4 separate regions of the Homo sapiens genome follow, and all the other regions are reported to be linked to region 1. Evidence: microRNA targets listed by miRTarBase, many of them from high-throughput screens and not tested one by one. Region 1 holds a microRNA gene; each other region holds the end of a gene's coding sequence.

Evidence for each region. Region 1 holds the annotated microRNA hsa-miR-548v (AGCUACAGUUACUUUUGCACCA, at 1,987-2,008, opposite strand). A microRNA usually pairs through its seed, bases 2 to 8, with sites in the 3' UTR of a target mRNA and lowers its output. Matches are read on the target gene's strand: a 7mer-m8 pairs with bases 2 to 8, a 7mer-A1 pairs with bases 2 to 7 and ends in A, and an 8mer does both.
Region 2: the mRNA of STUM is a reported target of hsa-miR-548v. The part of its 3' UTR that is shown has no 7-base or 8-base seed match.
Region 3: the mRNA of CDC27 is a reported target of hsa-miR-548v. Seed matches in the 3' UTR shown: 7mer-A1 at 499-505.
Region 4: miRTarBase lists PEX5L as a target of hsa-miR-548v. Seed matches in the 3' UTR shown: 7mer-m8 at 2,320-2,326.

What each region holds. Positions count from the first base shown.
Region 1 is chr8:17,679,602-17,682,757 of GRCh38, forward strand. It overlaps MIR548V (microRNA 548v), which reads right to left and starts at 2,056; the gene lies at 1,977-2,056. All of the region lies in intron 7 of MTUS1 (microtubule associated scaffold protein 1), which reads right to left.
Region 2 is chr1:226,601,361-226,604,516 of GRCh38, reverse strand. It overlaps STUM (stum, mechanosensory transduction mediator homolog), which reads right to left. Exons shown (of 4, transcript NM_001003665.4): 4 at 1-2,511. The coding sequence ends at 2,477. Among named protein-coding and RNA genes, the nearest start is that of STUM, 54 kb to the right of the region's middle. RefSeq lists enhancers at 1-269, 1,479-2,014, 2,015-2,551.
Region 3 is chr17:47,118,471-47,121,603 of GRCh38, forward strand. CDC27 (cell division cycle 27) reads right to left here. Exons shown (of 19, transcript NM_001256.6): 19 at 1-2,547. The coding sequence ends at 2,465. Among named protein-coding and RNA genes, the nearest start is that of CDC27, 69 kb to the right of the region's middle. RefSeq lists an enhancer at 1,330-1,940.
Region 4 is chr3:179,798,976-179,802,131 of GRCh38, forward strand. PEX5L (peroxisomal biogenesis factor 5 like) reads right to left here. Exons shown (of 15, transcript NM_016559.3): 15 at 1-3,057. The coding sequence ends at 2,853. Among named protein-coding and RNA genes, the nearest start is that of PEX5L-AS2, 98 kb to the right of the region's middle.

The DNA of each region.
Region 1 (3,156 bases):
AGCGATTCGTATGCCTCAGTCTCTTGAGTAGCTGGGACTACAGGCACATGCCACCATGCCTGGCTAATTTTTGTATTTTTTGGTAGAGACAGGGTTTCGCCATGTTGGCCAGACTGGTCTCAAACTCTGGACCTCAAGCGATCCACCCGCCTCAGCCTCCCAAAGTGCTGGGATTACAGGTGTGAGCCACCATGCCTAGCCTCCAACTGTTTTATAATAGTGCTCAGTATACATTACACAATCAGTAAATATTTGCTGATTATAAAATAAAGAGAGCAAAGAACATTTACATAAGACTTTATGCTCATCCTACATCTGGAATTCCATCCTCTCCGTTCATATGTTCACTCACATATATACTGTGTTGACTATTAAAGCTGCTGGGGTGGTTTCATAAGAAAGAACTAGATGCAGATCCTGCCTTCAGTAAATTTCCTGTCTTAAAAAGCAAAAACAAGCATTAAACCGGTATCTCTAATATAACACAGACAATGAAAGAGAAGCATATATGCTCCTGGAATCCAGACGGGAACAGAACGTAGATCTAGAAGGCCAGGAAATCATTCCTGAGTGGGTTCTGGACTGGGAGTGGTGGATCATGCCTGTAATCCCAGCACTTTGGAAGGCCGAGGCAGGTGGATCACTTGAGGTGAGGACTTTAAGACCAGCCTGGCCAACATGGTGAAACCTCATCTCTACTAAAAATACAAAAATTATCTGGGTATGGTGGTGGGCATCCGTAATCCCAGCTACTCAGGAGGCTGAGTCAGGAGAACTGGTTGAACCCAGGTGGCGGAGGTTGCAGTGAGCTGAGATTGCGCCACTGCACTCCAGACTGGGTGACAGAGCAAGGCCACTGTCGCAAAAAAAAAAAAAAAAAAAAAAAAAAAAAAAAGCGGGTTCTGGAGCTGTATTCAGTGCAGTCACAATTCCTTGGCTGTCAGGACCTAAATTTAAGTATAAGGTGAAATTCACACACAGTACAATTGTCTGGGAAATTCACTAGGAGCTTGCCATGTTTGTGGACAATGCATCTCTCTGTAGATCCAACCCAGTGAATTTTTTTCCTCTAGCGTTGGATCAACTCTCTCTATAACTGAGCACCTGATAAAGGCCTCGGCTTGTGTTTAGAGGCCAGGTTGCATGAGGGAAAAGTATCTTTAAACACTAAGATAGCAGAGAGTATAGAATGCTCACGCCACAAGAGGTGTTCGGGGACTGAGCAGACACATGAAGGAAGGGTGGACTCCTGACCTTCATCTCAAATTGACTCCCGGGCCTTCGTTCACTGGGGGGAATACAAGGTGGACTTGTGTTCTTCATTTAATTTGCTTTTTTTCTTTTTTTTTTAAGTTGGAATCTCGCTCTGTTGCCCAGGATGGAGTGTAGTGGTGCGATCTTGGCTCACTGCCACCTCCACCTCTCAAAGTAAAGTGATTCTTCTACCTTAGCCTCCCGAGTAGCTGGGACTACAGGCACATGCCACCACACATGGCTAATTTTTGTAGTTTTAGGGGAGATGGGGTTTTACCATATTGGTCAGGCTGGTCTCGAACTTCTGACCTCAGGTGATCCACCCGCCTTGGCCTCCCCAAGTGCTGGGATTACAGGTGTGAGCCACAGCGCCCGGCCTGCATTTTTCTTCCTTCAGTTGTTTGTGTACTGAATCTATGTAAATTAAATGCAAGTGGTGATGTGATGCTGCTGTAAAACCGACCTGAACATGTAGGTATTGTGGGCAAGGACAGCAACCCAGTAATGATACGTGAACAATGGATGACGTACAGGAAGTTTACAGGACATTTTTAGTTGATAGCTTCCTAGACCTAGGTTTACGTCCTGGTTCTCCTCTTGCTAGCTGTCTGATAGCAGGCAAATTACCTAACTCTATGCCTCAATTTTCATATTTGTAAATTCCAACTCGTGTCTTTGGTGAGGATTTAAATAAGGTAAGTAAGAATATCTGGCACTTAGTAAATATTAGGCTGGTGCAAAAGTAACTGTAGCTTTTGGCATGATGGCAAAACCGCAATTACTTTTGCTCAAACCTAGTATTCAATAAATCCCTCTTGCTTCTCCTCCATCTCTTTATGTACGGCTACAGCATCTGGGCATGATAATAACATTAAAAGGGGCAGTTGTTGCCAAATGATAAAGAGCCTTATAGTACCAGTTGAAAACCAGACTCCCCAAAACAAAATAACATGAGTTACGTAATTATAAATTTCCTAGTAGCCACGCTGAGAAAAGTTGAAAAAGATGAAGCTAATTTTAATAACGTATTTTATTTAACCCAAATATATATATAAAATAATATTTCAATATATTCAATATAAAAGTTGTTAATGAGATATTTTACATCCTTTGTTTTCATTCTAAGTTTTTGGAATCCAAGTGTATTGTACACTTACCACACATCTCAATTCAACGGATTTACATTTCGAATGCTCAGTCTCATATGGCTAGTGGCTACCACACTGGACACATCAGCTGTAGATAAGGGAGAACCACTGGAAGATTTAATCAGCAGCGTGGGATGCTTTGGTAAGAGGACGCTGTCAGCAGTGCTTGGGATGGATTATAGGTGAGAAACAGTACAAGCCTAATGATTGGTTAAAAAGGTGCTATCACAGGTTGGGCGCAGTGGCTCACGCCTGTAATTGCAGCACTTTGGGAGGCCGAGGTGAGCGGATCACCTGAGGTCAGGAGTTCAAGACCAGCCTGGCCCACATGGTGAAACCCTGTCTCTACTAGAAAATTACAAAAACTAGTCGGGCATGGTGGCGGGTGCCTGTAATCCCAGCTATTCGGGAGGCTGAGGAAGGAGAATCACTTGAACCCGGGAGGTGGAGGTTGCAGTGAGCCCAGATCACGCCATTGCATACCAGTCTGAGTGACAGAGCAAGACTCCATCCCAAAAAAAAAAAAAAAAAAAAAAGTTGCTATCATGATCTAGTGGAAGCTATCCAGGGTCTGAGCAAGGATGGCATGAATGGGGACAGCAAAGACATAGGAAGGGGAAAAGCACTGTGAAATGAGAGTTCACAGGACTTGACTGACGTCATGAGGAGGATGAAAGGAGAGAAAACAGTTGAGGATGGGGGCTATTAGGCTAGATATAATAAAATAAAATAATTGGTTTATTTCTAAACATAA
Region 2 (3,156 bases), not on the chromosome of region 1:
GTCCCGCCCACATGGCAACCCTCACAGCCTCATTCAGGAGACAGGCAGGGGCCTCTTGGCTTCTCCCACACATCAGTTACCCGGAAAGGGGCCTCCTCCTGAGGCTGATGTTTTCCCAGGTTTAGAGACGCAGCCCTCGGGGGAGAGGAGGATCTGGGGGCGCAGTGGCCCTCCACACACACAAACACACAAACCCCTGTATTAAACCATCCCACACGGGACCCAGGGTGACACCTGCCACTCAAGAAAGTCCCACCTGCATCTGGATTGTGTCACTAAACATGCGACATAAATTGCTATCTCTTCTTCACCCCCTCAGCAGCCGCCCCCAGCCCAAGCGGGGAAAATAAGCTTCCGCCTCCCATTTGTGGGGGCGGCCCCCTCCTGAGACCTGTCATCACTCAGGGGGTGTCGGGCAAACTCTGGGGGCTGTGTGGGGTGAAGGGCTGTGGGCTGGTGGGCATGGGAGGGGGCGGCTTCCTGCAGCTGAAGCTATTTTATCTGAGTAGAGGGGCAGCTCCACTCTGACGCAGCTTCCTCGAGAGCAGCCAGCACCAGCCTGGAGGATGCCTGCTGCACACAGCAGAAGGTTCTAGCTTTTTAGAGAAAACCAAATCTGTTCCCACACCTTGAAGATACAGAGGCTTCCAAACAGGAGAGAAGAAGGCAAAGGCCTGGGTTGGGGTCTGTAAGAAGAGAGGACAGGACGCGACAAAGACACTGCCAGGTGTTCAAAAACGGCAGCCCAGCCCCAGGCAGCAATGGAAGACGGACAGTAGCTAAGGGATCCATGATAAGGGGTGGGCAGCAGGGCCCGCTTCTCAGGCAGGACTGTGATTAGAAAGCCCGGTGGATGGGGTAGGTGGGCTGAAACCCCCAGAACGGTGGCCACTACTTCCCAAGCACTTTCATCCTGCAAAATCCCTTCTCCTGCCCTCATGGAGTTCTGACAGTCTCTGATAGACAAACAAGCCCTTCAGAGAGGGACATGCCCAATGGCACTGTGTCAAGTGGAGTCAGAAGCTTGACTTTGGGCCAGCCCCATCTGTTAGCATTTCCTATGTTAGAATGAAAATGAAAGGAAAGGAAACAGACATGTAAATGTCCATCCTCTTAGTATCTAATTTCTCTTAATTTCAGATTGATACTTGATCCACAGTATCCTGGACAACTTCTGCTAGATTCTCCCCACCCCTAGCCCCCATTAGGGATCTAGCCCTGTCCCAATCACTTACAGAGGGGCTCCTTAAAGAGGCCCATGGTCTTTTGGCAACTGAAGGAGTCCTTGTGTAATGCCGACAATTTCACCCTCTAACACATCTGTTTGCAAGCAGGATTTTCAGATCAAGGTCCACAACCCCATACAATTGTTCTTGCAATTCTGAAACCCTAAAAGCTCTCAAATGGTAAGTTTTTCCCTAAGTTACTTAGTGGCAAAATTAGACTGAACTGAGGTGAGGCTATTTACAGTTTGTATAGCTCCCAGTTAATGGGACTAGTCACATGTTTCTCTGCAGAAATATTCACGTGCCTGATGGTAGGCGAGATGTTCCACACTCTGCCGGGAAGTTAGAAAGTGTACGATAAATGGATCGCATTGTCTTTCTCAAATCTAAAATTTCTCAATTCGGAGACACATCTGGCCCCAATGACTTCAGAAAAAGGAATGTGGGCCAGAAATGCTGTTAAGTATTGGGTGAAAGCCTGCTAGTCTGCCCACTCCTGCTTCAGTCTAATAACTTTGTGTATAAACATCTGGCAGTTTCACCCCAGGGAAGGAGCTACTCCTCTCCTTCCCAGGAAAACACAGGTCACGACACACCCAGCCCTCAGATTTCAGCTGCGAGGAGGCGGGGGGTGCGGTCAGGGAGGCAGGCCCAGGAGACGCCTGTGGGACTGGTCTTCTCCCCGAGGCCTCAGGCCAGCTGTGGGCACAGTGGGCCTTTCCACGCTAGGGTGGAGCCTGGCCATCCTCACCCACACCCTGGTGCTGCCCCCAGGAGACCACACAGTAAACACTCGGGGCACCAGATTTTGAGGCAGGTGGGGTCCCACAGGACGGGTCTACCACAGTCCTGTCCCCTTGGTGAGCCCCTGCTCACCCAGACAGGGCCCGGTGTGGCCCGGCCCAGCAGACGTGGCGTGCCTTTGCGGTGGGCAGTGGGTACAGCAAGGCCAGTTGGAGCCTGCCGGAGCATCCCAGCCTCTCTGTGGGCGTTCTCATCTCCACCCCACTCTCTGATGCTCTGGTGCCTGCGCCCACAGTGCTTTCCAGAGCAGGAGGGGCTGGCAGCCCTCACAACCTGCTGAGAAAAGCAGATGCGTTTTCAAAATAAATAATATTTTTAAAAATACCCCCTTTCCACCCCCAGTCCAGAAAATGGCAGAAAAGAACATGTAAAGGTCCTTGTGCCCAAAGCTGCCTGGTGCAGCCCTCACAGGGCCCCCCTGGATCTCCCCAGCGGCTCCCGTGGGCTCACAGCTGCTGTGGGATGCCCTGCTCCTTGTAGCCTGTGAGGAAGAAGCAAAGGAGAGATGGTTAGACACCTGCTTACTTCAGGATTTCTCCAGGAGGTGCCCCTAGCCCAGAATGCACACAGGAGGCATTGTTTATACTAAGGTGTAAATGACTGCTACCATCAGAGCACAACTTTTCCCAAGGGCTTTGACTTTCTAATGGGAAACAAAAGAATGAATCAGGAAATGTGGAGTACTGGGTCTACTGGGAATGTATGACGGGCGGGCATTTGGGGTGGGAGCTAAAAGGCTATCGACATGCTCCTGAACCCACATCTGGAAGCCGCTTACAGACTGGTCTGGTGTGCTTTCCCAGTGCAGAGCCTTGGGAGCAGGTGCCAGGCAGGCTTCCCCGAAGGTTGGGCATCTGGTATGGGTGGATAGAAGGAGGAAGAAAGGAGGAAGATGGCATACAGAGGGGAGCAGCCATCCCTGTGTGCGTCCAACCTGCTGGACGGTTACGGCAGGAAAGGGCGCCTGAAGGCTAAACCTTTAAAACATTGTTGATCATGAGTCCTTTGGGAAAAAGTGAGCTCTGTGGATAGTAAGGAATTGTTACTGCTTTATTTAGGTGTGAAAGGGTATTGTGTTTGTTTTCTTAAGAAGATACCCTTTGGGAGGCCGAGGCGGGCAGATCAC
Region 3 (3,133 bases), not on the chromosome of region 1:
CAAGTGTGTGCGCGTATATATATATGTATATAGATGTATTAAGTTGGTGCAAAAGTAATTGCAGGTTTTGCCATAAAAGTCATGGCAAAAACCACAATTACTTATGCACCAACCTAATATATGTGTGAAACAGAGAAAAGGATGTCAAACTACTTAATTTAATTTCTGTAAAATAAACTTCTGAAATTTGAAGCAAACATTTTGCTTGATCAAAATGTGTTCTTCTTCGGGTTGTTTGATCCCCATTCCATGCAAAAAACAAAACCAAACAAAAAAAGAAACTGCAAAAGCCAGAAAGTGTTACTACGTGGGAAATAAGGCTTCAAATACCTAAATGACTTTGAAAGTAGGTATGAGGAAAAATAAAATAGGCCAAGCTTGGGCGGAAACTGTCCCCCAACCAGCCATTGCCATGGCATGTCTTACAAAACGATCCTTTTATCCTTGGTCTCAAAAAATCAGTACCAGAAAGACTCTCACCTCTGGCACATAAATTCCTGCTACAAAAAGATAATTATACTTCAGCAAGTTATGTTCTAAGCTTAGCTTTCTCCAGGCTTTATAACGCAGAACTCAGGTTGAAGCTTTCTATAAAACTCTAAATGACACTGTTATACAGCACCTTGTGCTTTGCCAATTAAAAAAATAAAAGAATCTAAAATTAAATATTACAGAACTAATGGATAATACAATAGCATACGTGTTAGAATCCAAGTGCTAGCCTCTGGGAATTTTTCATTATATTTATTTTCTCCCAACTGTTCCTTTTTTTTAAAAAAGTATTGTTTTAGACAGTACATATACATAAATTTAGGTAGGGAAATCTGTTAAATATCTCTCTGGCACCTGATACCTAAAGACCCTGACTTGAATTAATTTATAAATTGTACCTAATCCATGTTCAAATGAGATTAACAGTAAATTATAGAAAATTACTGAGTCTACAGACTAAAATTTTTTTCACATCTTTTGTAATCCACCTTATTTTCACAGCTTGACTAACAAATACAGGTAAGTTTGTCCTCCATCAAATAATCCAGAATAATAACTGTAGGCCTGTCATTCATAAGAAACTATAATTTGTTATATTCTGACACTGGCACTTAATAAAATGTTAACAACTAAAATTTCTCTAAAAATTTCAATACATTACAGTAAAGGAGATAAACAATTTAAGACTGTTTAAATCTGTTACTGTGGAATTCCAATAATTATCATTTTATATGCATAATTGAATTCTTAAAATTGTGGCCATTTTCCAAAGACACCAATCTATATTATGACAAACTCAGAAGAGAACCTATCTCCTTCATAAGAATGTTTTTTCCCCCAAGCTAAAAATTTCCAACATCCTAAACCCAATTACTCTTAGTAAATGTTTTGGTGACTCACACTACTGAAAAAATCTGAAGCAGAGAGTCAAAAAGAATGGAAAGGATCTCAACCAAAGGTAACCACACATTCTTACACTCTGCTTAAGCAAACACTTAGAAAAGTCAAAGGGATGTTTTGAACAAATATAGATTCAAGGTTATGGTACAATTCTGATTATATTAAGGCTTTCACTATCATGATCTCTTAAAAGTCTCTCCACTTTAGTGTTCTCCTTCTGATTCATATGGTGAACTTAAGGGGTTATTAAGGGCCTTGTTTTGGCTTCTCAGTGGGGAACCACTCTATCATCTCTGAATGTTAAAGGTGATCCCACAGAGCTCAAAGAGAAGAGGCAATATGGTAAGAAACAATTTTAAAGTTTGCAATACCAAGACAACAATGATCAACACTTTGAAGCAAGATGAATAAATTAAAATTCTTGGTTAGACATTAAAGCATTCTTGCCAAGAATAAGAGTACACTGTATGGAGGGATATTTGATTCCTACATACGAGTCCCAATATGCCCATTACATTTGTTTATGGGAGATACTGCAAGTTTAAGGTAATTTACATTCCTTGGCAATCAAGTCACTGTTATAGGCAACGTCTTTTATTGTTCCATCTGGCACTTGCAAACACCATTCTTGAAGAACCTAGAAATGAAGGTCAGTTACTCTGTTTATCAGGAACAGAACCAAATAAAAACAAATTTTTGAAAAAGCAACCAAGAAACTCTGGTTCATCACTATTTTCCATATCTAATGGTTCCTTCAAGATAAAGCATAACTCTTCCTTTCATGATACTTTCCAACAAAGGGAGATTAAAGAAAAACAGAAAAGAAAGTTCCCCACCCTACCCCCCATAAATTGTCATTCATACTGGTAAAAGAGCCAGTCTTGTTAGCAGCTAAATATTGCACTGCCTTTCATTCTGTATACAGTCAGGGTCCAATGAAAGTGGCACACTCATGGTATAAGTGACGGACGATGACACCGCCAGCTCAAGAGTAAAGACTCAGTATACAGAGGGACAAGAAACACGTCAGCACTAGTCACACATCCAGTTGTAAAAGTCTGATTTCCAGAAGTTAAAATTCATCACTTTCAGCTGCATGAAGTTGTGTGTCATCCGCATCTGTCATGCTGCTCTCCTGGGATTCATCTGTTCCCACTTTAAAAATAAAACAGAAGTCCACAGTAAGTTTTCTGACAAATATGTCCTGTTGGTTCATGAAAACAAGTAAGAAAAATTGTATTATATTCAGAGAGATAAAACCCTAAATAAAGGCCCTTAAAAATCCTCATATCCTTTAATAAAATGCAACTCAAGTTTCCTAACTTTATAATAGGTCTGATATTAGCTTACTGCATTTTACCTTTAAGTTTTAACTACCAAAACTGCCTCTTCCTAATGAGTTCCTTATTCCTGCCCTAGGAATTACAACTAGCTAGTTCTCTGAGACATTAAAAAAAAAAAATTGACATTTCCCCCAACCTCCAATCACTGACTCCACTTTAAGAATACTCCCTGCTAGTCCACAGAAACACAGACTATAACCTTCAGTTTCAAAAGGTTTATGGGGTCAGTCTATCAGTCAATCAATCAATCAATCATCTATCTTGCTCTGTCACCTAGGCTGGAGTGCAGTGGCACAATCATAGCTCACTGCAGCCTCAAACTCCTGGGCTCAAGTGGTATGATTCTCCTGCCTCAGCCTCCCAAGTAGCTGGGACTATAGACACGTACCACCACAGCC
Region 4 (3,156 bases), not on the chromosome of region 1:
GCGGTGCAATCTCGGCTCACTGCAACCTCCGCCTCCCTGGTTCAAGTGATTCTCCTGCCTCAGCCTCCTGAGTAGCTGGTATTACAGGTGCATACCACTACACCCGGCTAATTTTTGTATTCTTAATAAAGACGGGGTTTCACCATGTTGGTCAGGCTGGTCTCGAACTCCTGACCTCGTGGTCTGCCCGCCTCTGCCTCCCAAAGTGCTAGGATTACAGGCGTGAGCCACCGCACCTGGCCTGTCACTCATGTTTTAATAATGGTTTTAACTTAATTTTATAAAAAATATTATTGAAAAATGCAACTCTTTTCCTCTTGGGCCGTAATTCTGGACTTCTTGACAGCCTATAAAAATCTTAGATCTGACAGATACTACATACACTAGAGAAAGTACTACTAAATGCTCTGCAAATTGCCAAATAATGGTAAGAATGGAAGATTGTTTAGTCTTCCCTAAAACAGCTCCTTGGAGTTTGTGTTCCAATAGCAAAATAAAACTTGGGCCACAAAATTTGCCACCATTTAGCAACAAATTAATTATTTGACATTTATACTAGTTTCAGGCTTTAAATCCAGGCTGCAGATTCAGCTGCTGCTCAAAGTATAGAATGGCATCACAGAACACTTACAAAGTTTGCTTTGAATCCTTTGTTCAGAGGCTATTCAATCCTTTGTCCATGAACTATTCATGCCGACTTTCTGGTCAAGGTACAGAGATGGCAGGAGGAAGGAGCAGGGAAGGAAAGGATGCTTAATCAGGCATATTCAAGCAGGCCCTGCCATGGCTTGGAGGCTGGCCCCAAGAGTCCTTACCAGACTGGGTTTCTCGAATTCTACAATTCTTACAATACCATTCTTGAAAGCATTGTTGAGCTTTACTTTGCTGCTGAGACTGTAGAGAAGCACGGTCTGAGACTGGGTGGTCGCTGCTACCCATGATGAGTGCCTGAATGCCTCTGCCTTCTGCTGACCAGCTGGAGCTACCACCTGGCCCAAGTCAACTTTGACAATGACTATCAAAACCTGGCACTCCTCACAGTGGCCTCAGCTTTTTGTCTTTATAAACTAGAATAGGTTATAACATATGTAAGCCTCAAGGACTTGTGGTTTCTGTTAACTTGAGGCCCTCTCACAACCCAAGGACTTCAGATGTAACAGAGGAGAGGATTTTATTCCTGTACCTCGCATTCAATTGATAAGCACGTGTGCACATTTACTCCTCAGTAGAAGCTTATTCCCCAGCCAATTAGACTGTTTTGATCCCAATTCTGTGGAGTCTTTTTTGTTGTTGTTGTTTTATTTTTTGTGGGTAGCTATAATCATGAGCGGGATGAGCTATTATTATCAAAGAACATAAATAAAAAGTTGTTAGGATTAGCTACTGTGGGGAAGGTTCTAGACGAAGGAAGGAGACCAGGTAAAGAAGAATGGGATAACTTCTATACCTGACATTGGGAAAATTATATTCTGATTAGCATTTTGCAAAAAATGTTCCTAATTCTTTAAAAAATGTATCTTTCAAAATAATCACCAAGCCCCAAACACATACAAAACACTGTGGAGAACTAAGTGGAATTCAACCAATTAAAACACCACTGCTAATAGAAAATTCCCAATACTTGCTAAATGTTCAAAGAGCCAAAGAGGCATGCATCTTTCATATGAAATCACTGGCATTCAGTGAGATTTGGTTTGAAAGTGTTGCTCTTCTATCACTTAGAATGCAAGGGGATGAACAGTGCAGATTATTATGAAACTAAGAAAACATAATTTTTAGGAAAAAATGTTATTTATCACTCTTAAGAAATATTATTTAAAATATTTATGGTTTAAAAGGAATATTGGTGTGCAGGGCAAAGCCAGTAAAGTATGACACTTAAGCAAGTTAATTTGAACTCAATAGAAATCACGATACCATCAAACTTTCTTCCTGCAGAGAATGCATGAAGAGACAGTACCTTGTGTCTTACTTATGTTCATACAGACCCAGAAAGCACGTGAATGAAAAGATCTGTTTGCCATATTTACGCCTTATGTCATCGTATCTGCTTTAAGAAAAACACTTCTTCAAAATCCTACACTATGAAAAACTGTCTTCAGGAATTGTTTATTTGGTCCGTTGATCTAGTGAGGCTGAGTTCTTAAATCTTTCACCCCCAAGTTAAAAATTGGAGCAACAAAACAAAACTCCAGCAAGGCATAAATAAGATATTAAAGTGCATATATACAATACCAGAAAAGTTTAGATTGGGAACAGCAAAAATTTCTAGTGCAAAAACTGCTTTTGCCAGCAAAGCTCCCTCTCTGGAATCAAAGGGCTACAGTAAAAGTTAAAATTGGAACAGGTTTAAGCAATGTCTGTCTTTAGTCACAAGTTAATATATGTGCATGCACCAATGGCCCAAACTATGTTCAGTCTTGCAAAAGAAGACAGTTCAGAAACAGTCAGAATTTCCCAATCTGAGGCAGTGCTTTTTCCATGTTTCCCATGAACAAGTTCCTCAGATGTGTCATCAGCTGCAAGGGGAGACAAAAAACCCAAAGAACATGTGTTGCAATATGCTTGCAACTTGTGGAAAGAGTATTCAACACACAGTTACTTTATCTTGGTTTGTCTTGAGTCTCTTAATTCTTCTTTTGAGCCTGACTTTGACTCTATATACAACATTTTGTGCTTTTGGATCTGAACAGAGACTGGGCATTGTCCACAGGAATTAATTTCCTTGGGCTATATGACCATGGCCTTTTGAATATTTGATTTATCCTTTTGAAATTCATAATAAAATAGTTTTTGATTTTTCAGTACAATCACACAGATCAGGGATTATTAGTACTGGTATTATTCTTTCTTCAAGGATCCAAGTTGAAAGCTCTTAAGAGGACATCCAGGTCACCAAGATTAGCCGCCTGGAAGAGTTCTGGTTGGTCCATCAGAGAGAGCGCAATTCTGAGGGCAGCCCAGATATTCCCAGAGATTGCAGGATGAGGAACTTGCTGCTGATTCCTGCTCTTTCTTTGCAAACTGAGGGCAGTGAGAAAATTGCTGACCGCTTCTCTAAGAAGGTAGAAAAACATATTTTAAAATGAGTCACATTTCAGAGTTAGCAAATGTAAACAAAACAAAACAAAATTGGATTAAGTGATTTTAATCTAA